Linked DNA regions of Homo sapiens. The protein of the gene in region 3 purifies or fractionates together with the protein of the main gene of each other region. This does not show direct contact. Each region holds a gene or a part of one and is shown on either strand. Other genes may lie near its edges.

Region 1 (3,500 bases), on a different chromosome or scaffold from region 3:
TTCTTGTATTTTTAGTGGAGACGGGGTTTCACCGTGTTAGCCAGGATGGTCTTGATCTCCTGACCTCATGATCCACCCACCCCGGCCTCCCAAAGTGTTGGGATTACAGGCGTGAGCCACCGCACCTGGCACCTCATTTTCTTTATGGAATATGAGGTGCACTGGGCACCGAGAGGGTGATTATCGAAGTCTGAGGAGCTTGGGGAACGTTTCTGTTAGGGGGTGAATTGTGTCCCCACAAAGATATGTGGAAGTCCTATCCCTGGTCCTTGTGACATGGCGTCCTTTGGAAACAGGGTCTTTGCAGATGTGGGTAAGCTCAGGTGAGGTCATTAGAGCAGGCCCTAGTTACATATGCCTGATGTCCTTTTAGGAAGAGGAGAAGAGACGCAGACATACAGAAGGGAAGGCCGGATGACACCAGAGGCAGGGCTGGAGCAGCGCATCTGCCAGCCAGGGAGCACCAAGGCTTGCTGGGAACAGCAGGAGCAGGACAGCAGCTCGGGGCAGACACTCCCCTCAGCCTTCAGAGCCAGCGGGCCCTGCTGACACCTGATTTTGGAGTTCTCGCCTCCAGAGCTGCCAGAATACCTTCCTGTTGTTTAAAGCCACCCAGTTTGTGGAAATGATTAGAGTTCCAAATGGCCCCTATGGAGCGTGCAGGAGGGCACTGACAGAGGAAGATGCCTCAGGATCCACAAACAGCACTGTGGGGACATTTCTGGTGATGACTGTGAACTGATAGTGGCTTAATGCTGATAAGCATGAAGGATTCCTAAACATGTCCCCAAGCCACCAAAATAGCCAGCGTGAAAGAACTGCCCACATACTAGGGCTTTTATAACCCTGGGATTTGGCCTCTGTGAAAACTGATGACGGATGTCGTTTTCTTTTTTTTCTTTTCTGAGACAGAGTTTTGCTTTTGTTGCCCAGGCTGGAGCGCAATGGCGTGATCGCCGCTCACTGCAACCCCTGCCTCCTGGGTTCAAGCGATTCTCCTGCCTCAGCCTCCCGAGTAGCTGGGATTACAAGCATGAGCCACCATGCCCGGCTAATTTTGTATTTTTAGTAGAGATGGGGTTTCTCCATGTTGATCAGGCTGGTCTCGAACCCCTAACCTCAAGTGATCCACCCACCTCGGCCTCCCAAAGTGCTGGGATTACAGGCGTGAGCCACTGCGCCTGGCCTCATAGATGTCGTTTTCTTCATGAATAAGCTAGAGTAGAGTTCGTTTGAAAATACACACACGCACCACACGCACACACACACACGTGTGCACACACACGCATACACCCCCCCACATACAAGCATACAGATGCACACACACACCCATATGCACACACCCACGTGTGCGCACACACACACAGATGCAGACATACATATGCGCATACACACACCAATACACATACACGCACACACAGATGCATGTATACACACACACACCCATAGGCACACACACACATGTGCACACACACAAGGACAACAGCAACACAAACAACATGAGCCAGAAGCTACCACAGTCAGGCTCCTTGCTTCTGAGCACTCACTTGCTCCAGGTAAATATCCACGCTGCCTGTTGAGGTTGTGCTGATGTAAGCAACTGCCAAGAATGGATGGACAGGGTGCCAGCTGATAAATGAGGGTGACCCTGCTGCATCCGGGGCTTCTATCTGGTGGTCATAATAGAGGGCCATGACGGAACTCAGGCCTCCTCAGCGCTGAAACCTGCAGGGAAAAAAAAATGACCAAGTCCAATCAGTTTTAAATAAAACAAACAATATGACTGTACATGGAATGACGAAAAGGAAGCATCCCAAAGCCACCATCGGAAGACCATCGGCAACTTGAAAATGCCTTGCGGACTGAGCAGGCAACCTGATGCGAGGAGATCTCCAACAGGGAGACATGCAGAAGAGAAGCAGTTAGACCCGGAATCACCCAGGCTGTGACAGAAACGAATACAACTCATGGCCATCAAAGGAGGAAAGAAAGAAAAGGCCTGCAGCCTAACTACACACGCAATCCTCAGTAACTTTCATTCCAGTCACAATAAGGACAAGTTCTATTTCTGTAGTTCCCTTTAACTTTTTAGACCAAGTCTTGCTCTGTCACCCAGGCTGGAGTGCAGTGGTGTGATCACGGCTCACTGCAGCCTCAAACTCCTGGGCTCAAGTGATCCTCCCACCTCAGCCTCTCAAGTAGCTGGGACTACAGACATGCACTACCATGCCCAGCTAATTTTTAAGTAATTTGTGTAGACACAAGGTTTTACTATGTTGCCCAGGCTGGTCTTGAACCCCTGGCTCAGGTAATCCTCCTGCCTTGGCCTCCCAAAGTGCTGGGATTACAGCCGTGGGCCACCACTGCCTTTTAAACAACATTTTCAAACAAAATAAATGCAAACTGCTCCAGAAAAGAGTACTGGTACAGAAAAAAAACCAGTACTGAATTTCCAATAAAGCATAAAATCAAAGACTGTCTTTTACCTCTGACTCACAGGTGGTAGAAGACAGAAGTCTTCCTCTATTAGAGAGTCAAGAATGCACAGCCGCAGCAGCTGTGAGAAGTTGAGCTTGATCACTTACGTGAACTTAATCTCTCTCTTTCATTCTTCCTTTCAGATCTGGAAAAGATATACACATCGTCCCTTTTCAGGCGGGTTAGGGTGATAAATAAAGTGACGGTCTGGTTACTGCTCACTTTTTTACACCTCAGTCAATTTGGGGAAGTTAACTGGCAGAGAAGAACATACTTGTAGCCGGGTTTGCCACCATTTAAAATTATACAGGCTCATGCCTGTAATCCTAGCAATTTGGGAGGCCGAGGTGGGCAGATTGCCTGAGCTTAGGAGTTCGAGACCAGCCTGGGCAAAATGGCGAACGCCACCCGCCTCTACTAAAAATACAAAAGGTTATCCAGGTGTGGTGGCAGGCACCTGTAATTCCAGCTACTCCGGAGCCTAAGACAGGAGAATCACTTGAACCTGGGAGGCAGAGGTTGCGGTAAGCTGAGATCGCGCCACTGTACTCCAGCCTGGCAACAGAATAGGACTCCGCCTCAAAAAAAAAAAAAAAAAAAAGAAACCCGAACAACAAACAAACACTCCAGATCAAAACCTGGGCAATTTAAAATAGCAAAAGAAACCTTTAAATTAAAAAATATATATTGTTTAGAGACAGGGCCCCCAGGCTGGAGAGCAGTGGTGTGATCATGGCTCACTGTAGCCTTGAACTCCTGGGCTCAAGTGATCCTCCTGCCTCAGTCTCCCAAGTAGCTGGGATTACCTCTTAAAATGAGTTTTGGCCAGGCATGGTGGCTCATGCCTGTAATCCCAGCACTTTGGGAGGCCGAGGCGGGTGGATCACAAGGTCAGAAGATCGAGACCATCCTGGACAACATGATGAAACCTCTTCTCTACTAAAAAATACAAAAATTAGCTGGGTGTGGTGGTGCCTGCCTGTAATCCCAGCTACTCAGGAGGCTGAGACATGAGAATCGCT
Region 2 (3,500 bases), on a different chromosome or scaffold from region 3:
GCCAACATGGTGAAACCCTGTCTCCACTTAAAAAAAAAAAAAAAAATTAGCCTGTAATTCCAACTACTCGAGAGGCTGAGGCACAGGAATCACTTGAACTTGAGAAGCAGAGGTTGCAGTGAGCCAAGATCGCACCACTGTCCTCCAGCCTGGGTGACAGAGCAAGACTCTGTCTCAAAAAAAATAAATAAAATAATTAAATAAATAAATAAATAAATAAGTAAATAAAGAGATGCAGACTTTCTTTCTACCCCTATTCTTTTCTCCTAAGATGAGCCAAAGGAGAACCTGATGCTCGTGTGCCTTAGCTCCTCCTTAGATGCTCCAGCATCTCATTTTACTGTAGAGGAAGATACTTAGGCCCTGGAGGCTTAGTGATTTGGCAGAGGTTGCTGCTGAAGTTGGGGACAGAGTTGACTTGGGAAGCCAAACCTCCAGCCCGTCCAGGGCACTCTGTGCTGTGCTGTGCTGTGCTGTGCTGGGCTGTGCCATCTTCTCTCACAGGCTGGCCATTTCCTGGTAATTTAGATTCACAGTAAGAAGGCAACCAAAACTTCTTTGTTTGCTTAGCCTGTGGAACAGTTACTTTTTTGGGGGCAAGTATTGAAAGTCTTTGCTTCAGAAAATTGAGTATCTCTCCAGAAAGGAGTTTTAAAGCTTGATTAGTTTTTCCTTTACCCAAATATGTGCTGTTACATAACTATCTCATGTGGCTTTTAAAACAAGTCTGCTGGCCAGGTGCGGTAGCTCACGCCTGTAATTCCAGCACTTTGGGAGGCCAAGGTAGACGGATCACAAGGTGAAGAGATCGACACCTTCTTGGCCAACATGGTAAAACCCCGTCTATACTAAAAATACAAAAATTAGCTGGTCATGGTGGCGTGCGCCTGTAGTCCCGGCTATTCACGAGGCTGAGGCAGGAGAATCGCTTGAACCCAGGAGGCAGAGCTTGCAGTGAGGCCGAGATCACACCACTACACTCCAGCCTGGCGACAGAGCAAGACTCCGTCTCGAAAAAAAAAAAAAAAATAGTCTGCTGTAAGTGGTTTTAGCCTCACTTTACAGCTGAGGAAACGGAGACATCAAGAGAAGAAATGTCCAAGGTCAGCAGCTATTTGGTGGAAGAAACAACATGTGAATCCAGGTCTCCAGATTTGCCACATGTGGTTCTTTTCTCTTTACTCCAGCTGCTGTCTCTAGTTGGCAACACAAGAAATGAAAAGATATAAAGGATTCTTTGCTTAATTAGTGATCTATATCAAGTCAGTTTATACTCCCTTTGTCCCATTTGAGGACAGTGTGGATACCTAGTGATCTAGTTTAAGATCTTGATTCCTTTCTTCGAGAGTACTTTAAAAAAATTATTGAGATATAATTCACACAGTATAAAGTTCATCTTTTTTTTTTTATTGAGATGGAGCCTTGCTCTGTCCGCTCAGACTGGAGTGCAGTGGTGCTACCGTGACTCACTGCAGGCTCTGCCTCTCGGGTTCACGCGATTCTCCTGCCTCAGCTTCCCAGATAGCTGGGATTATGGGCGCACGCCACCACGCTCAGCTAATTTTTTTTCGTATTTTTAGTAGAGATGGGGTTTTTGCCATGTTGGCCAGGTTGGCCTCGAACTCCTGATGTCAGTTGATCTGCCCACCTTGGCCTCCCAAAGTGCTGGGATTACAGGCGTGAGCCACTGTGCCCAGCCAAAATTCCGCTTTTTAAAGTATATAATCTGGCTGTTGTGGGTATATTCACAAAGTTGTACAGCCATTACCATTGTCTGATTCCAGAACATATTCATCATTCCCAGAAGAAACCCCATACCCATGAGCAGTCACTCCCTATTTCCCCTTCCCTCAGCCCGTGGCAATCCCGAATCTACTTTCTTCCCCTATGGATTTTCCCAGGAGCACTTTTTAAGTTGAGTCTGGTATTTAACTTCTTCCTGCTTTATTTTCCCATCTCAAAGTAAATATAACAAGTTTCAGTCTACCCCACAGCTTTGGGAGGGAGGAAGCTTTGTTAAAGTCAGAATACTTTGAACTTCGTGGTGGCTCATGCCTGTAATCCCAGCACTTTAGGAGGCCAAGGTGGGTGGATCACTGGAGGTCAGGAGTTTGAGACCAGCCTGGCCAACATGGCGAAACCCCATCTCTACCAAAACACAAAAAGCAAAACAACAACAACAACAACAAAACAAAGATTTGCTGGGCATGGTGGCCTGTAGTCCCAGTATTTGGGAGGTTGAGGTGGGAGAATCACTTGAACCCAGAAGGTGGAGGTTGCAGTGAGCTGAGATTGTGCCACACTGCACTCCAGCCTGGGTGACAAAGTGAGACCCTGTCTCAAAAAAAAAAAAAAAGAATACTTTGTGTTGGGAACAGGCCCCCTGAAATCTGGCCATAAACTGACCCTCTGTGTTGTTTGTCTTTGTGTAGTCTGCAGATGTGGATCTTGACTCCTGCAAGAAGTAGCTCACCGTGACAAAGCTGCCTTTGCTTTTATCACTTTGCAAATCAAAGAAGGGGGACATGTTGGGAACAGGCCCCCCCCCCCCCCAAAATCTAGCCATAAACTGGCCCCAAAACTGGCCATAAAGTCTCTGCAGCACTGTGACATGTTCATGATGGTGGTGATGCCCACGCTGGAAGGCTGTGGGTTTACCGGAATGAGGGCAAGGAACACCTGGCCCACCCAGGGCAGAAAACCGCTTAAACACGTTCTTAAACCACAAACAATAGCATAAGCAATCTGTGCCTTAAAGACATACTCCTGCTGCAGATAGCTAGCCACAGCCCATCCCTTTATTTCAGCCCATCCCTTTGTTTCCCATAAGGAATACTTTTAGTTAATCTATAATCTATAGAAACAATGCTTATCACTGGCTTGCTGTGGATAAATACATGGGTAAATCTTTGTTCAAGGCTCTCAGCTCTGAAGGCTGTGAGACCCCTGATTTCCCACTCCACACCTCTATATTTCTGTGTGTGTGTCTTTAATTCTTCTGGCACTGCTGGTTTAGGGTCACCCCGACCGAGCTGGTCTCAGCAACTTTGAGCTTATTCCATTGGTTTGAAAATTTTAAGAATCTGGTATGAAAATTTAAGAATCTTTTTGAAAATGAATTGTCTTCCACACACATTTGTCTTTGTAGACTCTTTCCCTTCATTCAATTACCAGGAACATGGAGCGTTCAGTTAAATGTGCTTGCATCGAAAGACGCTTTATGGTTTGTTTCTACAGCAATTGTGGATTTGTCTCTTGCAGATGGATGCGGCAGACAGGAGCTGCACAGTGTCTGTGCACTGCAGCAACCATCGTGTCAAGATGCTGGTGAAGTTCCCTGCACAGTACCCAAACAACGCCGCCCCTTCCTTCCAGTTTATTAACCCCACAACCATCACATCCACCATGAAAGCTAAGCTGCTGAAGGTGGGGGTCTGGGTTCCCAAATTCTCCTTGCTGTTCTGCATCATTGTCTAGATGGATTAGTAAAGAAGAATGAA
Region 3 (3,500 bases):
GCTGTGGGATGAGCAAGGGGACTGCCCCATTGCTGGTCCCCTGCAGCCTGTGGTTAAGCGGCCAGTCAGCGGCAGCTCCGCATAGAGTCGTGTGGAAGGAGTGGAGGCAGGAGGAGCCCCTGGGGCTGTGGAGGCTTAGCCTGGACCTCGGGAGTCCTAGGATGGGCAGTTTTCCTTCCCTAGGAGGAAGGGGCGTTGACTGTGTGACCAGATGATTTGGCCTTTTGAGGCCAAAGGAAGGAGGGGCAAGGCCTGGGCAGGGGGAGCCCTCGGTCACCGTCACCGGGGCCTGGGCAGGGGGAGCCCTCGGTCACCGTCACCGGGGCCTGGGCAGGGGGAGCCCTCGGTCACCGTCACCGGGGCCTGGATAGTGGGAGCCATTGGTCACTGTTACCGGGACCTGGGTGGGAGGAGCCCTCAGTTACCTTCACCGGGGCCTGGGCAGTGGGAGGCGCCCTTGGTCACCGTCACCAGGGCCTGAGCAGTGGGCGCAGGACTTTACTCCCGCTTAGTTGATTTCAGGCTCGTGTTAGCCTGGGTGTTGCCCTTGCCATCTTCCCCCCTCACCTTTGCCGCCTGACTGTCATGATTCCAGTGCTTCTGGGCAAAACGGTGTCTGCTCCCAAGGGCTGGGGTGCGGTCGGCTGGGCTCACTTGTGTGTCCTGATGCCCAGCCCAGGGGCGTCCTCTGGGCGAATGGCAGCTGTGTGGTGCCATCTCTGTTGACTGAGGCATGATCAAGTGTGCGTCCTTCCTAGGTCTCTGCCTGCCATTCCTGCATTTTTCTAAGTGGACTGTGACAGTCAGCTCCCTTACATTCTGCCGCAGTAACAAGCAATCCCCAGGCCCCAGGGACCACACGAACAGAGGCTCACCCTCCCTCGCGTTCCGTGTGGGTGATCGCTGTGGCTGCATGTGCTCCTGTGGCTTCCAGTCCAGGGGCCCGGGCTGAGGCAGCTGCCCAGCCAGTCAGTCTGTTTTCCCAGCAGAAAGAGCAGGACAGCCGCCGGGGATTCTCTCAGCTTCTGCTTGAGATGGGGCGGGAACGTGAGCCCAACTGCCCTTGGTGGTGCGGGTGGGGACCCTCATCCCGCACTGGCTGCTTTGCTGGAGTGGCAGTCAGTCATGCAGCCCCCACACCACCCCCAGGAGGGCGACCCTGGCACCCCAGCCTCCACACATCAGCCCCCATGCCCCCACAAAGGAAGGCTGCCCCCAACACCCCCAACCTCTCTACCAGCCCCCATGCCACCCCCAGGGCGGGCCGTCCTCCATGCCCCCAGCCTCTGCACATCATCCCCCACGCCACCCCCAGGGCGGACTGTCCCCAACGCCCCCAGCCTCTGCACATCAGTCCCCAGCCCCTCCACAGCCTGGTCCAGTCCTAGACCTGTGCCTTGAACATTAATGCCCAGAGCCGGGTTCATGACCAGGACAGGGCCGAATGGGGCTGGTTCTGTGTTCACAAAGTCACCTCCAGACGCTTCCTGGGACGGGTTCAGGAGACGCCTTGTGTGTCTGTCACCTCGTTCTGGCTCATGCTCGACGGGTAGGTAATCTGGCCTTTGTTTTCTGCAGATAGCAAAACGACCCTTTCTTAGGTGTGCGGCTCGATGAGTTGACCCGGATATGCGGTTGTGTGCAGTTGCTCTGAGGCTTTTCTGTGCTGTTGTCCGGTGTTGGCGAGGCTCTGGGCAGGTCCTGAGGCTTTTCTCTGCTGTTGTCCGGTGTTGGCGAGGCTCTGGGCAGGTCTGGGCAGGTCCTGAGGCTTTTCTCTGCTGTTGTCCAGCATTGGCGAGGCTCTGGGCAGGTCCTGAGGCTTTTCTCTGCTGTTGTCCGGTGTTGGCGAGGCTCTGGGCAGGTCCTGAGCCATTCTGCTTTCCACTCTGTGGTCTTTCCCTTCTGGGAGCCCTGGGTTTTTGGACATGTTGAGACAATGGGGCTTGCGCAGGTCCAGCCGCTGCCGCGGGGGCCCTGTGTTCAACGGGGGACACTCAGCCCTGCCCAGGCCCCGCTGTAGCCTCAGCCCACCCGAGTGGAAGCCACACTGGTCGCACCAGATGCCCCGGGCTCCTCTGAGTAGTGACCACGGCGGGTCTCATTGGCACTGCCTATCCACCCGTCACGTGTCATTCAGTTAGCAAACCTGCTAGGGAGATGCCTCCTGTGCCCTGTGCCTGCCGGGCGACAGCAGTGACCAGGGCGGGAGAAGCCTTGCCCCATAAACTCACGCAGCAGAAGGAACAAGCTCAGCCCATGGCCCCTCAGAGCCAGGAAGCGCCGGGGAGGAGGGCAGGGCCAGGCAGGGTCATGGGGTGTGCCGGGGAGTGCCGGGAGGGCCGGAAAGATGACCCTGAGGGGTCATTTCAGCAAAGACGGGGTGTGGGGAGCAGAACGTCTGGTGCAGGAGCACCAAGACCCTGAGGGGCGCGTGCCTGCCATGTTCTAGAACCTTCCAGAGATGGTGGGTGTGGAGCTGAGTGACTGAGGCGTGAGCAGACAAGGGTAGAGCCCATCTTGTGGCCACGGGGACACATGGGGCGGCCGGTCTGATGAGGAGGTAAGAAGGCCTCACAGGCAGCCGATGCCCGCCAGACCATGGAGGCGAAAGCCGGCCTCGCAGCCGTGCCCGTGCGGCTGTGACGAAGGGACCGTAGGAGGGGCTCTTGCTCAGGGCAGGGCGTGACCCAAGGGTCTGATCTGACCGAACTAGCTCTAGAAGTTTGTAAAAGGGGCCGGGCACGGTGGCTCATGCTGTAATCCCAGAGCTTTGGGAGGCTGAAGCAGGAGGATCACTTGAGCCCAGGAGTTTGAGACGAGCCTGGGCAACATCGGGAGACTTCAAAAAAACAAAAAATTGATGGTGGGGAAATGCGGGAATTTTGGGCGCCGGCCGGATTCCCAGTGGTGGCGAGGAGGTGGTATTTTTTTAAGTGTCAGTGTGGCATTGTGGTTGCCTCAATAAAACAGAGTCTTTTTTTGTCTTTTTTTTTTGAGACAGGGTCTCGCTCTCACCCAGGCTGGAGTGCAGTGACACAGTTGCAGCTCACTGCAGCCTCGACCTCCTGGGCTCAAGCAATCCTCCCGCCTCAGCCTCCCGAGTAGCTGAGTCTACAGGTGCCCACCACCAAACCCAGCTGATTTTTATTGTTTTTAAGAGACGGGGTCTCCCTGTGTGGCTCAGGCTGGTCTGAAACTCCTGGGCTCAAGTGATCCTCCTGCCTCAGCCTCCCAAAGCTCTGGGAATACAGGCGTGAGCCACTGCGCCCGGCCAAGTGTTTCTCTTAGAATTTCCTGAAATGATAGGGTCTCTGGAGGGGCAGGTGCTGGGCTTGAGCCCTGGGTAGGACCCTGCAGGGGAGAGGTGGTCCTGCAGCCCACAGAGGATGGCTCTGTCCTGTTCCTCATGGTGCAGATCTCCACAATGGAAGTTCGAAGCAAGCAAAAGCCACGCAAACCACAGGCCGATCTGTCTGAGCCCTAGGATTTGGCCCGGTTCT
Region 4 (3,500 bases), on a different chromosome or scaffold from region 3:
CTGACTCCGTCCTTCCTCCTGAGACACGTGCAGCGAGGGCACCCACTGTGCAGCGAGGGCTCCCGCCGTGCAGTGAGCATACCCCCTGTGCAGTGAGGGCACCTGCCGTGCAGTGAGCATACCCCCCATGCAGCAAAAGCACCCCCCATGCAGCGAGGGCTCCCGCTGTGCAGTGAGCATACCCGCTGTGCAGTGAGGGCACCTGCCGTGCAGGGCTGCTTCAGGGTTTGGCACCATAATGCCTGGATGTGCTCCGTGGCTTCCTCCTTGGTGCCTGTGTTTGGTGGCTGGAAGGCCCAGCACCCTCAGGGCCCAGAACCCTCAGGGAAGTGCCTGGGCATCTGCCAGGAATTAACCCACTGGGTCCCACTTGTCTCAAAGCCTGGCTTGGTAGGATGGCCTGAACTTTGGATGTTTTTCATGCCTTTCGTTACATAGGATCCTCTTGCTGAGGGTGGATCATGCCCTCCACATTGCAAAAGCATCAGAGACCCAGCCCACCCTCGCGTCTGCAGCGGGAAGATGGGCCTGGTGCCAGGCGCGGGCAGCCGCCCCTCCCAGCGTCGGGAAGATGGGCCTCATGCCAGGCATGGGCAGCTGCCCCTCCCAGCGTCGGGAAGATGGGCCTCCGGGTGGTTTTGCGACTCAGTCATCTGCGAATTTCCGGATGCTGCACAGAAGGGGGTGCCAAAGTTTTTTTAAGATGATGTAAAAAAAGCATAAATTTGATAAAAATTATGTCCATTAACCTCATAAGTTTCTACCCATCGGGAAGGATCATCCTTCTGTTTTCAGCAGCAGAAAACTGACCACAGTAGGGGGTTGTCTGTCACTGAGTCCTCAGCTCTGGTGGGAGGGCAGGGTCAGAGCTGGGCAGGGTGGCCAGCTCGGGGATCTGAGCATCTGGGAGCAGGAGGTGGAGGGCCAGGTGAGCACACAGCTGCGAGGAGGTGGAGGACCAGGTGAGCACACAGCTACAGCTACAGGGAGGCTCTGCGCCTGCAGGACAGGTTATTACAGGGGCCGCAGCAGGGCCTGGGCCGCCTCCACTCTGTTGGCTGGGGTTCAGGGGTCCCAGGTCGCCAGGAGCACCTTGCATGTGGCTCGGGATGCACGGAGTCTCCCGTGAGGTGTGGGTTTCTTAGGACCCCAGGGCAGGTGTCCCATGGGAGTATGAACTAAATGCCTTTGTGGACGTTTAGACGTGAAATGTCTGCTCTAGACTCACACACCTGTCTCGCTCCCTCCTTCCAGAACTCTTAAAACGCCTAGATGACGTGTCCAACGATGTGAGGATGGCAGCCGCCTCCACCTTGGTCACCTGGCTGCAGTGTGTCAAGGGTGCCAACGCAAAATCCTACTATCAGAGCAGTGTCCAGTACCTGTACCGAGAGTTGCTGGTTCACCTTGACGATCCAGAGAGGGCCATCCAGGATGCAATTTTAGGTGAGACTCCGACGGCTTGGCCTTCGTTCCGATGCCTGCTTTCGGCGCCTGCCACGGGCATCTGTAGCTGAGCCGTGTGACCGGCCACAGGGCCCTGGGGCACAGGAGGGGCCTCAGCTCCGGCCTGGCACACTCTTGAGTTCTTGGCAAACCCTGAGAGCGGCTGTCTTTGTGGTGATAGCTGCTGACATTTCCTCTAACAGAAATCAAAACTGAGAGTATTCTAGAATACTTGTTAGTTGTTTAAAATAACAATAGTAAGCCCAGTATATATTGACACAGATGGCTTGTGTTTTTGAAAAATACTTTCCAAAACAAAATCATCTGCAAGAACGATTTTTGCAAATGTCTTAAATGTGTAGCTTGATGGAAGACACTGGACTTTCACATCTTCCATACAGTCAGTCATGATGTGTATGGCTCTGGCTGAAATACGTGGAAAATAATCTGGCCTCGCCTGTGGCTTCAAGTGTAGTTGGACAAAAGAAGAGTATTTTAGTAGCCTTTTCAGATAGGCGTGGGACTTCTTCAATACCACGCCAACAGCGACACAGGCCGTCCCTTGAAGGTCACTCACAGCACAGGGCCTGAGGCCACACACCACAGAGCCTTCCACGCTCAGTGCATTAAAATCCGCTGGTCCATCTCACACTTGGAATGTAACGATTTGCTTTTTTTTTTCTTTTTTTTTTTTTTGTTTTGTTTTGTTGTTGGTGAATATAATGACGTTGTTCTTTTTTTTAATAAAATTTGTATTTTTAATTTTTGTGGGTACACATAGGTGTATATAAGGCATGTGTGATACTGTGATACAGGCATGCAGTGTGTGTAAATCACATTGGGGAAATGGGGTCCCCGTCACTTCAAACACTTACACTTTCTTTGTGTTACAAATAATTCAGTGATACTTTTCGTTATGTTTAAATGTGTGATAAATTATTGTTGACCATAGTCACCCTGTTGTGCTATCAAATACTAAATCTTACTCATTCTGTTTTTGTACTCATTAACCATCCCCACCTCTTCCCCCGGCCCCATTCCTCTTCCGAGCCTCTGGGAGCCATCCTTCTGCTCTATCTCCATGAGTTGAATTATTTTTATTTTTAGTTCCCACAAATGAGAATGTGCGGAATTTGCCCTTCTGTGCCTGACTTATTTCACTTAACATAGCGACCTCCACTTCCCTCCATGTTGATCCAATGACTGGATCTCATTTCTTTTGTGGCCGGATAATATTCCACTGCGTGCGCTCCACGTTTTCCTTCTCCCTTCATCTGTCCGTGGACACCCCGGTTGCTTCCACACCTTGGCTGTCGGAACAGTGGGGCATTCGGCGTGCGCGTGCAGCTCTCCCCCATAGCTGAATTCCTCTCTTTTGGGTATTTGCCCAGAAGTGGGATTGCCGGGCTGTATGGGGCTCTATTTTTAGTTTTGGAGGGACCTCCAGACTGTTCTCCCAGCGGTGCTCATTTACATTCCCACCAGCAGCGTGAGGGTTCCCTTGTCTCCACATCCGCGCCGGGACTTGTTTCCGCAGCCATTTTAACTGGGGTCAGAGGATGTCTCACTTGTTTCTATGTGCATTTCTCTGAGGAGCGGTGGTGGTGGGCACCTTTTCAGACGCCTGTTTGTCATTTCCATGCTGTCTTTTGAGAGCTGTCTGTTCAGGTCTTTTACCCATTTTTAATTGGATTATTAGATTGTCTGCTATTGAGCCTGAGCTCCTCATATATTCCAGTGATTAATCCTTGTCAGGCGGCGGTTCTAAGATACAGTCTCCCATCCCGTACCCGCGGGCTGTCCCTGCGGCTGTACTCTGCTCATTCTTCCCTTTGCTGTGTGGAAGCTTTGGGCCTGGATGTGCTGACTTTGCCTTTTGCCTCCTTTGGAAAATACTTAGACCTTCCCCGCGCAGCTGCGTCCGGTTTCCCGGCGTGGCTACATCCGGTTATGCGATGTCGGATCTTCCTGGTGTGGCCGCCTCCCGTCGCGCAGCGTCAGAAACTCGGATCTTCGCGGCGTGGCCGCCTCCCGACACGCGGCGTCAGAAACTC
Region 5 (3,500 bases), on a different chromosome or scaffold from region 3:
AATACCTCACTGCAGCCTTGACCTCCTAGGCTTGAACGAATTTTCAGCCTCAGCCTTTTGAGTAGCTGGAACTACAGGCATGTGCCGCCACACCTGGCTAATTTTTTTTTAATTTCTTTTTTTTTCTATTTTTATTTTTTGGAGAGACAGCGTCTTATTATGTTGTCCAGGCTGGTTTTGAACTTATTCTGGAGATTTTTTAGAAATGAAATTCTATAATACATAAATGGTCCTTTGTGTCTGGCATCTTCACTTAGTGTAATGTTTTGAGGGTTCACCCAGGTTGAAGCCTGCGCGAGGCCTTCATTCCTTCTTATTGCTGAATAGTATTCCATTGTAATGATATTATCATTCATCAGCTGATGGACACCTGATGGGTTGTTTCCACTTTTTGGCTGTCACGATACTGTGAATATTGTGAAAAGTTTTTATGTGGATGTATGGTTTCATTTCTCTTAGATATACCTAGGAGTAGAGACTGGGCGTGGTGGCTCACGCCTGTGATCCTAGCACTTTGGGAGGCTGAGGTGGATGGATCACTTGAGGTTGGGAGTTCAAGACCAGCCTGACCAACATGGAGAAATCCCGTCTCTACTAAAAATACAAAATTAGCCAGGCATGATGGCGCATGCCTGTAATCCCAGCTACTTGGGAGGCTGAGGCGGGAGAATTGCTTGAACCTGGGAGGTGGAGGTTACAGTGAGCTGAGATCACGCCATTGCACTCCAGCCTGGGCAACAAGAGTGAAACTCTGTCTCAAAAATACATACATACATACATACATACATACATACATACATACATACACACATACATACACACACACACACCCCTAGGAGTAGAATTGCTGAGTTGTGGTAACTCTGCATTTAACATTTGGAGGAGCTGCCAAACTCTTTTGCACTGAAGCTGTACCGTTTGTACTCCCAGCAGCAGTGTGGGAGGGTTCCAGTTGTATATCCACATGGACAGACTTATTATTCTGTCTTTTTTTTTTTTTTTTTTTTTGAGATGGATTGTCACTTTGTCACCCAGCCTGGAGTACAGTGGTGCGATCTCGATCTTGGCACACTGCAACCTCGGCCTCCCAGGCTCAAGCAATTCTCCCGCCTCAGCTTCCTGAGTAGATGGGATTACAAGCATGCACCACCACGCCTGGCTAGTTTTTGTATTTTTAGTGGAGATGGGGTTTCGCCATGTTGGTCAGGCTGGTCTTGAACTCCTGACCTCAGGTGATCCACCTATCTCAGCCTCCCAAAGTGCTGCGATTACAGGCGTGAGCCACCATGCCTGGCCTGTTATTCTTTGAATTTAGTCATCCTACTGAGTATGAAGTGGTGTCTCATTGTAGTTTTTATTTGCATTTCCATAATGACTAAGGATGTTGATCATCTTTTCTTGTGCCTGTTGGCCTTTGTCTTCAGCTAAACAAATGTCTGTTCAGATCACTTGCCCATTTTTAAAATTGGGTTCTGTCATTTTTATTACAGAATTGTAAGAATTCTTAATAGATTCTAAATGCAAGTCTCTCCTCAGATACATGATTTCCAAGTATTTTCTTTTGTTCTGTGAGTTCTTTTCACTTTCTTGGTGAGATTGGTGTCGTTCGATGCACTAAAGTTTTAAATTTTGGTGAAGTCTCTTTTATCCAGTTTTTCTCTTGTTACTTGTGCTTTCAGTATCATCTCTGAGAAGCCATTGCCTACCCCAGGATCACAAAGATTCACTCTGATGTTTCCTTCTAAGAGTTCTATAATTTTTTATTTTTTAAAGAGACAGGTCTCACTATGTTGCCCAGGCTGGTCTCACACTCCTGAGCTCAGGCAATCCTCCCGCCTCAGCCTCCCAAAGTGCTGGGATTACAGGTGTGACCCACCGCGCCCAGCTTATAATTTTTCTACATCTTATGTTTAGGTCTTCAACCCATTTTAAGTTAATTCTGTATGTAATGCAAGGTGGGTGTCCAAATTTCATTTTTTACACATGGATATCTATTTGTTCCAGCACTATTTGTTGAAAAGACTGTATTTTCCTCATTGAATTGTTTTGGTACCCTTGTCAAAAATCAATTGTCCACAAATGTAAGGGTCTGTTTTTGGTCTTTTAGTTCTGTTTCACTGATCTATATGTCTGTATGTCCGTCCTTATGCCAGTACTACACTGTCTTGATTACAGTAGCTTTGCCATAAGCTTTGAAATCAGAAGTGTGAGTCCTTCACCCTAAAGCAGGTAAATATATCACTTTTGTTCTTTTAGATTGTGCTTTTTGAGTCTTCATAAATCTTCCACTCTGCAGACAAAGAAGAAAATCTTTTTTTTTTTGAGATGGAGTCTCACACTGTCACCCAGGCTGGAGTGCACTGGTGTAATCTCAGCTCACTGCAACCTTCACCTCCCAGGTTCAAGCAGTTCTCCTGCCTCAGCCTCCCAAGTAACTAGGATTACAGGCACACACCACCACGCCCAGCTAATTTTTTTGTGTATTAGTAGAGACGGGGTTTCACCGTGTTGTCCAGCCTCCTGAGCTTCCACCTGCGCCCGGCCCTTTTTTTTTTTTTTTTTTTTTTTGAGGCAGAGTCTCACTCTGTTGCCCAGGCTGGAGTGCAGTGGCACAGTCTCGACTCACTGCAACCTCCGCCTTCTGGGTTCAAGCAGTTCTCTTGCCTCAGCCTCTCAAGTAGCTGGGATTACAGGCATCCACCACCACGCCCGCCTAATTTTTGTATTTTTAGTAGAGACGGGATTTTACCATGTTGCCCAGACTGATCTCGATGTCCTGACCTCAGATGATCCACCTGCCTCGGCCTCTGAAAGTGCTGGAATTACAGGCGTGAGCCACTGTGCCTGGCCTGAAGCTACTTTTTACCCCAGTTCTCAGACTGCCCCTTATCCCAGAAGCAATCACTATTTCTCTTTTAATTTGGGGTGGGGGGATATTATATGCAGCTACAGCTCATAGTATATAATCCCTCCCCACTTTTGTACAAGTAGTAGCATATGATATATATACTTTGGTATGTTGCGTTATTCTCTTAATAATATCTCTGAGTCATTTTCTACCACGTATGGCAATACTTGTTTATTCTCATTTGAAGCTGCATAGAGTTCCATTGTTTGGATGTACATAATGTATTAAATCAGCTTTCTGTTGGAGAGCATTTTTTTCCTCTCTACGCTGTTGGAGGCAGTGCTGCCGAGAATGAGCCTGTTTGTAGGCCCCTCTGCACATGCGCCCTTTGTAGGCTGCGTTCGCCTTTGTCATTTCTTTTGACATTGCTTCTGGTAATTTTGGCTGTGTGTATGTTTTTAACATAATCACACTTACCCATGTTTCTTTGATTTATGAGTTTATGATGCTGCTGCTGCTGGTGCCGCTGCTGCTGCTCTGGAGACTAGAACTTTTTTTTTTTTAATTGTTTTTGAGACAGATTCTCACTCAGTCACCCAGGCTGGGATGCAGTGGCACAATCTCGTCTCACCGCAACTTCCACCTCCCCAGT
Region 6 (3,500 bases), on a different chromosome or scaffold from region 3:
CAGGTGTGATCCACCATGCGTGGCCTATTATCTTTTTGGTAAAGATAATATGGACATTGAAATATCTTTGTGCCATCTGATTGACAGTAATCAACAAAGGAAAGTTTGTTGTTTCCAATGAGTTAAAACTTACTTCAGCATACCCTTTTTTTTTTTTTTTTTTTTTTTTTTTTTTTTTGAGATGGAGTGTCTCTCTGTCGCTCAGGCTGGAGTGTGGAGTACAGTGGCACGATCTCAGCTCACTGCAGCCTCCATCTCCTAGGTTCAAGCAATTCCCCTGCCTCAGCCTCTTGAGTAGCTGGGATTGCAGGTGCCCACCACCACGACCAGCTAATTTTTGTAGTTTTAGTAGAGACGAGGTTTTGCCATGTTGGCCAGGCTGCCCTTGAACTCCTGACTTCAGGTGATCCACCCAGCTCAGCCTCCCAAAGTGCTGGGATTACAGGCATGAGCCACCACGCCCAGCCAGCATATTCTGATATGGTGTTTGCCAAATAGCACCTGGCATCAAAAGCAACTGGTGTGTATGAAGTGGGAGTGTGTTCTGTTTCTAGATTCCTGATTCTCCTTCACCTCGTTGAATCAAGTCATGTCTGTTCTTGCTTTTAAGATTTCTTACCGGACCCTTGAACCTCAATGATCCAGATGCAAAATGCAGATTCCCCAAAATTTTTGTAAATACAGATGACACTTATGAAGAGCTCCATTTAATCGTTTATAAGGTAACAACTGTTTTCCTTCCAGCGTTAATGATTGTGCTGAAGTGGATCTTTCTTGCATGTGTACACGAGTGCATGTGCAAACCTCTTAAATGTTTCTTGGAAAAGATATTGGAAGTTCTGATTATGGTAAAACTCAAAATGGGTGTTCTTCCAGCGTAATAAGTTTATTTTCAGCTCCTTTTAAACAGTTTTGTTATTAGTGAAAGAGGAACTGTTTAAGATTGTGATTTATAAACGTGTGAAGTCTCACGTGCTCTCAAACCAAAGGCTGTCAGAGGTTGGTGCTGCCTGTTCTCGAAATGGCTCTGGATGGGGGCCGTAGCCACGTGTCTGTGCATATGCTGCTTTTGCTCTGATTTTAAAGCTGTAGGCTTGCTAATTCCATAAGGATTGTATTTTGTTTCTGTCAGGACATGGTCTTGTAAGGATATGTACTCAGGTTGTGTTTCTAATTAAAGGCAGTTTTTGATTCAAGAAAGAAGACGGAGCATGTGCACGTGTTTCTCCTCTTTCCTGCCTGAGGCTGTGGAGAAGTTTTCATTTATAAAGGCTCAGAAATGATGCCGTGGGGGAACAGGAAGGAGCGGGATGTGTCAGGATGAGGGAGTCCTGTCCCTCTCTGGAAGGTAGACGGGACTTGTAAACCATGCCTGATAGAGGGCGGTGCCGGAGCAGGCCTGGAATATGAGTGGCAACCCTGTGCTAAGGCAAGGACCCACAGCCCTGTGGAAGCCCAGAGAGGCTCCTGACTTGGAGGAGGTCACCTGAGGAGTCAGAGTGGGGCCTGGGCCTGGAAAGGTGGGGAAGGGAAGTGAAGTGTGGCAGAGAGGCCAGTCAGCCTCCCCTTCCCCCATCCTTGCACAGACAGGCCCACAGCTGAGCATCCATCCCTGGGTGACAATCGAGGGTCTGTTTAAAGAAAGGAAACAGTCTGAAGAGACCCAGAGTGGCTAACGTGGATGTCTGCCCCTGAGAATGAGGCCCTGCTCATTCTGGCATTTCTTTCTCCCAGACAGAACTGAGACCTTCATCCTACACTCAGAGTGAAGCCTCCATCTCTGGTCAGCCTTCTGGTTCCCTCATTGTTAAATATGGCTGCAAAAACAAAACTAGAGGTCTCGAAAGAAACATGATTCCGAGGACAGACAAGAACTTTAAAAATTAGTATCCACTAATTAGAAGAGTTGTATCTATTAATATAAAATTGAAATGGGCCAGGTGCAGTCCCAGCACTTTGGGAGGCCAAGGTGGGAGGATCACTTGAGGCCAGGAGTTGGAGGCCAGCCTGGGCAACATAGTAAGACCCTGTGTCGACAGGAAAATGTTTAAAAATTAGCCAGGCATGGCAGTGCTCATGTGTAGTCCCAGCTACTCAGGAGGCTGAGGCAGGAGAACCGCTTGAGCCCAAGAGTTGGAGGCTGCAATGAGCTATGATCACACCACTGCATTCTAGCCTGGGTGACAGAGTGAAACCCTCTCAAAAATAATGAAACTGGTATCAACAGTTTCATATCCAGCACCAGACATTATGTGACAGTGGAAGAGAGACTTTCAAAGTTCTGAGAGAAAATGAATTTGAGCGTAGAGTTCTTTGCCATGCCAAGCTGTCAACCACAGATAAGACAAAAGAAAGACATTAGCCAGGGCATGGTGGCTCATGCCTATATCCCAACACTTTGGGAGGCCAAGGTGGGCGGATCACCTGAGGTCTGGAGTTCGAGACCAGCCTGGCCAACATGGGGAAACCCTGTCTCTACTAAAAATACAAAAAATCAGCCAGGCGAGGTGGCACACGCCTCTAATCCCAGCTACTCCGGAGGCTGAGGCAGGAGAATCACTTGTACCCGCGAGGCGGAGGTTGCAGTGAGCTGAGCTTACGCCACTGTGCTCCAGTCTGGGCAACAGAGCAAGACTCTGTCTCAGAAAGAAAAAAAAAACACGTTCAACATGAAAAGCCTCAAAAAGTTTACCGTCATGCACCTTTCCTGAGGGTGTTACACAGGGTCATCCGTCAGCAGAATAAGTGAGCACACCAAGAAGGAACACTTGGGAATCCAGAACAGTAGTTCTCATGTGTGAGACGGTACAAGGAAATCTTGGGGTGATAAGGCTCTTCAGGTCTGCTGGCGGCACCCCACCTCCAGCAGCTCCGTGACAGCAGGAGGAGGGAGGGCTCTAGGGTTCAAGCCGCCAAGATAAAAAGATGTTTCATTCATCACATGGTGTGCTTGAGAGTCACTTAAAGTTGGGCTGTGACAGACTGGCAGGGAAGGGGAGATTGCAGGAAGAGCATACAGAAAGATGTGGTCTGAAAAAGCAAACCAAAATGTTGGAGGTGTAATTCAGAGCAGGAATTGGAGTAGGAAGAATGTCCGTTTGTGTATCGAGTGAAAGTTTGAGACCCCATCTCAAGAAAAAAATCATCCTCCTTTGAATGACCCAGGTAATGGCTGAAATCTCCATAACCCTGGTGTGTAATATGCTGTCGGCTGCATTTCTATTTTTAGAGTCAATCTACAGACATATTGTGGGGTGTGATGATGGGATTGTGGCTATGTTAAAGGGTCCTTACCTTTTTCTTAATGACTTTGAGATACAATGCACGTACCATACAACTCACCCTCGTACACTTAAAATGTACAGTTCAGTGATTTCTAGTTGCAAAGTTCATGAGTCTCCAAGACCATCCTCACTTCTGACACCCACTGCGAGTTTGGGAGTCCCCGTGACCACCTTTAGGGTAAGAGTTCTCTAGAAGTACTACAGGACTCAGAAAAG
Region 7 (3,500 bases), about 140 Mb from region 3:
CCAGCACTTTGGGAGGCCAAGGCAGGCAGATCACTTGAGGCCAGGAGTTGGAAGCCAGCCTGGCCAACATGACGAAACCCCATCTCTACCAAAAAATACAAAAATTAGCCCGGCATGATGGTGCACTCCTGTAATCCCAGCTACTCAGGAGTCTGAGGCAGGAGAATTGCTTGAACCTGGGAGGCGGAGGCTGTAGTGAGCTGAGATCGCGCCACTGCACTCCAGCCTGAGCAACAGAGTGAGACTGCCTCAAAAAAAAAAAAAATAGTGTAGAAGTTGAGGGATTTTGTGCAACCGGGGTGTAGGGTACATGGATGGGAGAGAAGGTCAAGAAGTGAGATTAGGAAGGTGTGGTGGGACCAGATTTTGAAGGGTCTTGTAATGGTGTAGAAATCTGGGTTTAATTCTGTGTACACAGGTTAAGTAATGTGATCAGATTTGTACTCTAGAGATATAACTAAATGGTAAGAGGAAGTATGGACTATGGGTGGTGGGTGAGCAGGGGTCAAAACTGGGAGCTGGGGAAGTCAGTAGAGGGGGCAGGAGTAGTCCCAGCAAGAGAGGCGTGGGGACTACATCTGAGGGAATGCAGCCTGGTGACATTTCTGCAGTGGGAGAGATGAGGCTTCATGAGCAATTAAACATGGGACAAAAGGGAAGGAACATTCAGCCTTGTGGGAATTTGTAGCTGCATTGTGTGTTGAATCAGGTAGTGTATTTGGATAGCTGCTGGTTGCTCTTCTATTTATTCAACTTCTACACAGTGGAAACAGAGAAGAAAGAAAAGCATTTCCGAGCACTATAGTGTTGTCTGTTTTTGTTTGCATATATAAGCTTTAGCCTTTGCAGGAATTGAGGCACTTTAGAAAATGCAGTTATTGGGCCAGGCGTGGTGGCTCACGCCTGTAATCCCAGCACTTTGGGAGGCCGAGGTGGGTGGATCTCGAGGTCAGGAGATCAAGACCATCCTGGCTAACACGGTGAAACCCTGTCTTTACTAAAAAGTACAAAAAATTACCTGGGCGTGGTGGCGGGCGCCTGTAGTCCCAGCTACTCGGGAGCCAGAGGCAGGAGAATGGCGTGAACCCAGGAGGCAGAGCTTGCAGTGAGCCGAGATTGCACCACTGCACTCCAGCCTGGGCGACAGAGCGAGATTCCATCTCAAAAAAAAAAAGAAAAGAAAATGAAGTTACTAATGTGAGAGTTAAAGAGGAAAGAAACACCAGGCGGGGCACGGTGACTCATGCCTGTAATCCCAGCACTTTGGGAGGCTGAGGCGAGTGGATCACCTGAGGTCAGGAGTTCAAGACCAGCCTGGCCAACATGGTGAAACCCCGACTCGACTAAAAATACAAACATTAGCTGGGCATGGTGGCAGGTGCCTGTAATCCCAGCTACTTGGGAGGCTGAGGCAGGAGAATCTCTTGAACCCGGGAGGTGGAGGTTGCAGTGAGCCAAGATCATGCCATCACACTGCAGCCTGGGAGACAAGAGTGAGACTTCATCTCAAAAAAAAAAAAAAAGCCACAAAACGCAGCTTGGCAGTCAAAGACAGATTTTCTTTAGTTAGAACCTGAGAAGCACTCCTGGCCGATGTTTTAACTAAAGAAAACCTGTCTTTGACTGCCAGGCTGCGTTTTGTGTTTCTTTCCTCTTTCTTTAACTCTTACAGTTAACAAGTACAAAAACCTTAAGTTTCATTTGTAGGGCCACAGATCATAGAATTTCAAATGACATATTACATAGTTTGTAAATGTATATATTTGGTTGACTGAAACTTAATCATAATTTAGTTCTTAAAACTATGTGGCTTGAAGTGGCAAGTAGCAAGTACTGATTTTACCAGATTCAAGTTGATTTTTAAAAGTAACCATTGGAGAAATCGTTATACATTTTTGTTTGCAGGATTTTTACCTCCTATAACTCCACCAGAAAAGTTTTTTCTTTCCCAGCTGATGCTGGCACCCCCACGGGAACTCTTCAAAAAGACGCCTCGCCAGATTGCACTGATGGACGTTGGAAACATGGGCCAGTCTGTGGACATTAGTGGGCTTCAGTTAGCCTTGGCCGGTAAGGAGGAATCAGTGTTTTGGGCATTTCTGTGTGGTAATATTAGGCCTCTCTTGTTGAGGACTCTACTAAAATGATGTTTTTTGTAACTGCTAAAAGGTTAGTATCATCCATTTTAAAAAGTAGTTTTAGTACTGGATCTTAAATGGAAGTCTTGGCTGGGCACGGTGGCTCACACCTGTAATCCCAGCACTTTGGGAGGCTGAGGTGGGCAGATCATTTGAGGTCAGGAGTTTGAGACTAGCCTGGCCAGCATGGTGAAACCCTGTCTCTACTAAATATACAAAAAATTAGCCAGACATGGTGGTGCAGCACGCCTGTAATCCCAGCTACTCAGGAGGCTGAGACAGGAGAATAGCTTGAACCCGGGAGGTGGAGGTTGCAGTGAGCTGAGAACAAACCACTGCACTCCAGCCTGGGCTACAGTGAGACTCCATCTCAATAAATAAATAAATAAATAAATAAATAAATAAATAAATAAATGGAACTCTTTAAATTTTTGGATGCTAATAGCATGTAAATTCATTTGGAGTTTTCACTTGAATTGATTGCTTTTTCTGTTTTAGAAGAAAGCTGGATAAAATTTAGTGGGTTTTTTTTTAAGTTTTGATTGGAAGACTTACTATTTGTTAAAATGTCAATACTACCCAAAACAATCAACAGATTTGGTGCAATTCCTGTCAAAATTCCAACAGTGTTTTTTGCAGAAATAGAAAAATCCGGCCAGTCACAGTGGCTCACACCTGTAATTGGGAGGCTGAGGCACAAGAATCACTTGAACCTGGGAGCTGGAGGTTGCAGTGAGCTGAGATTGTGCAACTGCACTTCAGCCTGGGTGACAGGGCGAGAGTCTGTCTCAAAAAAAAAAAAAAAAAGAAAAATCCATCTTTAAACCAAAGAAAGGCTGGCATAGTAGCTCATGCCTGTAATCTTTGGGAGAGGCCAAAGTGGGAGGATCGTTTGAGGGCAGGAGTTCAAGACTAGCCTGGGCAACATAAGGAAACTTTGTCTCTGCAAATAATTAAAAACTTAGCCGGGCGTGGTGGTGCATGCCTGTGGTCTCAATTACTTGGGAGGCTTAAGTGGGAGAATCACTTGAGCCTGGGAGATCGAGGCTGCAGTGAGCTGTGATTGCGCCACTGCACTCCAGCCTGCACAATATCGTGAGACCTGTCTCGGGATGCTGAATAGCCAAAACCCAACGTTCTCTTGGCATCCTTGTTGAAAATCATTTGCCCATATATGCAAGGGTTTATTTCTGGGCTTTCTATTCCATTCTATTTGTCTATATGTCTGTCTTTCTGCCAGTACCACACTGTTTTGATTACTGTAGCTTTGTACTAAGTTTTGAAATCGGGAGGTATGAGACTTTCAACTTTGTTCTCGTTCAGGATTGTTCTGGCACATTCTGTGTTAAACCTGTAAGCAAA

The links.
Region 1: the proteins of D2HGDH (region 3) and IFT140 purify together in Homo sapiens (affinity purification with mass spectrometry; one large-scale study listed by BioGRID and IntAct). This does not show direct contact.
Region 2: the proteins of D2HGDH (region 3) and WDR59 purify together in Homo sapiens (affinity purification with mass spectrometry; one large-scale study listed by BioGRID and IntAct). This does not show direct contact.
Region 4: the proteins of D2HGDH (region 3) and DNAAF5 purify together in Homo sapiens (affinity purification with mass spectrometry; one large-scale study listed by BioGRID and IntAct). This does not show direct contact.
Region 5: the proteins of D2HGDH (region 3) and VPS33A purify together in Homo sapiens (affinity purification with mass spectrometry; one large-scale study listed by BioGRID and IntAct). This does not show direct contact.
Region 6: the proteins of D2HGDH (region 3) and CCZ1 purify together in Homo sapiens (affinity purification with mass spectrometry, with the first as the bait; one large-scale study listed by BioGRID). This does not show direct contact.
Region 7: the proteins of D2HGDH (region 3) and CNOT11 purify together in Homo sapiens (affinity purification with mass spectrometry; one large-scale study listed by BioGRID and IntAct). This does not show direct contact.

What each region holds. Positions count from the first base shown.
Region 1 is NC_000016.10:1,605,573-1,609,072, forward strand, and holds part of IFT140 (intraflagellar transport protein 140 homolog), read right to left. Parts: intron 2,625-3,500; exon of another isoform or gene 2,487-2,624; intron 1,726-2,486; 5' UTR 1,695-1,725; coding exon 1,548-1,694; intron 1-1,547. UniProt on the Homo sapiens protein: Component of the IFT complex A (IFT-A), a complex required for retrograde ciliary transport and entry into cilia of G protein-coupled receptors (GPCRs).
Region 2 is NC_000016.10:74,912,124-74,915,623, reverse strand, and holds part of WDR59 (GATOR2 complex protein WDR59), read left to right. Parts: intron 1-3,261; coding exon 3,262-3,426; coding exon of another isoform or gene 3,427-3,477; exon of another isoform or gene 3,478-3,500. UniProt on the Homo sapiens protein: As a component of the GATOR2 complex, functions as an activator of the amino acid-sensing branch of the mTORC1 signaling pathway. The GATOR2 complex indirectly activates mTORC1 through the inhibition of the GATOR1 subcomplex.
Region 3 is NC_000002.12:241,751,630-241,755,129, forward strand, and holds part of D2HGDH (D-2-hydroxyglutarate dehydrogenase, mitochondrial isoform 1 precursor), read left to right. Parts: intron 1-2,449; coding exon of another isoform or gene 2,450-2,488; exon of another isoform or gene 2,489-2,560; intron 2,561-3,001; coding exon of another isoform or gene 3,002-3,034; exon of another isoform or gene 3,035-3,117; intron 3,118-3,415; exon of another isoform or gene 3,416-3,500.
Region 4 is NC_000007.14:778,699-782,198, forward strand, and holds part of DNAAF5 (dynein axonemal assembly factor 5), read left to right. Parts: intron 1-1,254; coding exon 1,255-1,446; intron 1,447-3,500. UniProt on the Homo sapiens protein: Cytoplasmic protein involved in the delivery of the dynein machinery to the motile cilium.
Region 5 is NC_000012.12:122,256,495-122,259,994, reverse strand, and holds part of VPS33A (vacuolar protein sorting-associated protein 33A), read left to right. Parts: intron 1-3,500.
Region 6 is NC_000007.14:5,912,233-5,915,732, forward strand, and holds part of CCZ1 (vacuolar fusion protein CCZ1 homolog), read left to right. Parts: intron 1-610; coding exon 611-722; intron 723-3,500. UniProt on the Homo sapiens protein: Acts in concert with MON1A, as a guanine exchange factor (GEF) for RAB7, promotes the exchange of GDP to GTP, converting it from an inactive GDP-bound form into an active GTP-bound form.
Region 7 is NC_000002.12:101,255,886-101,259,385, forward strand, and holds part of CNOT11 (CCR4-NOT transcription complex subunit 11), read left to right. Parts: intron 1-1,905; coding exon 1,906-2,070; intron 2,071-2,929; exon of another isoform or gene 2,930-3,500. UniProt on the Homo sapiens protein: Component of the CCR4-NOT complex which is one of the major cellular mRNA deadenylases and is linked to various cellular processes including bulk mRNA degradation, miRNA-mediated repression, translational repression during translational initiation and general transcription regulation.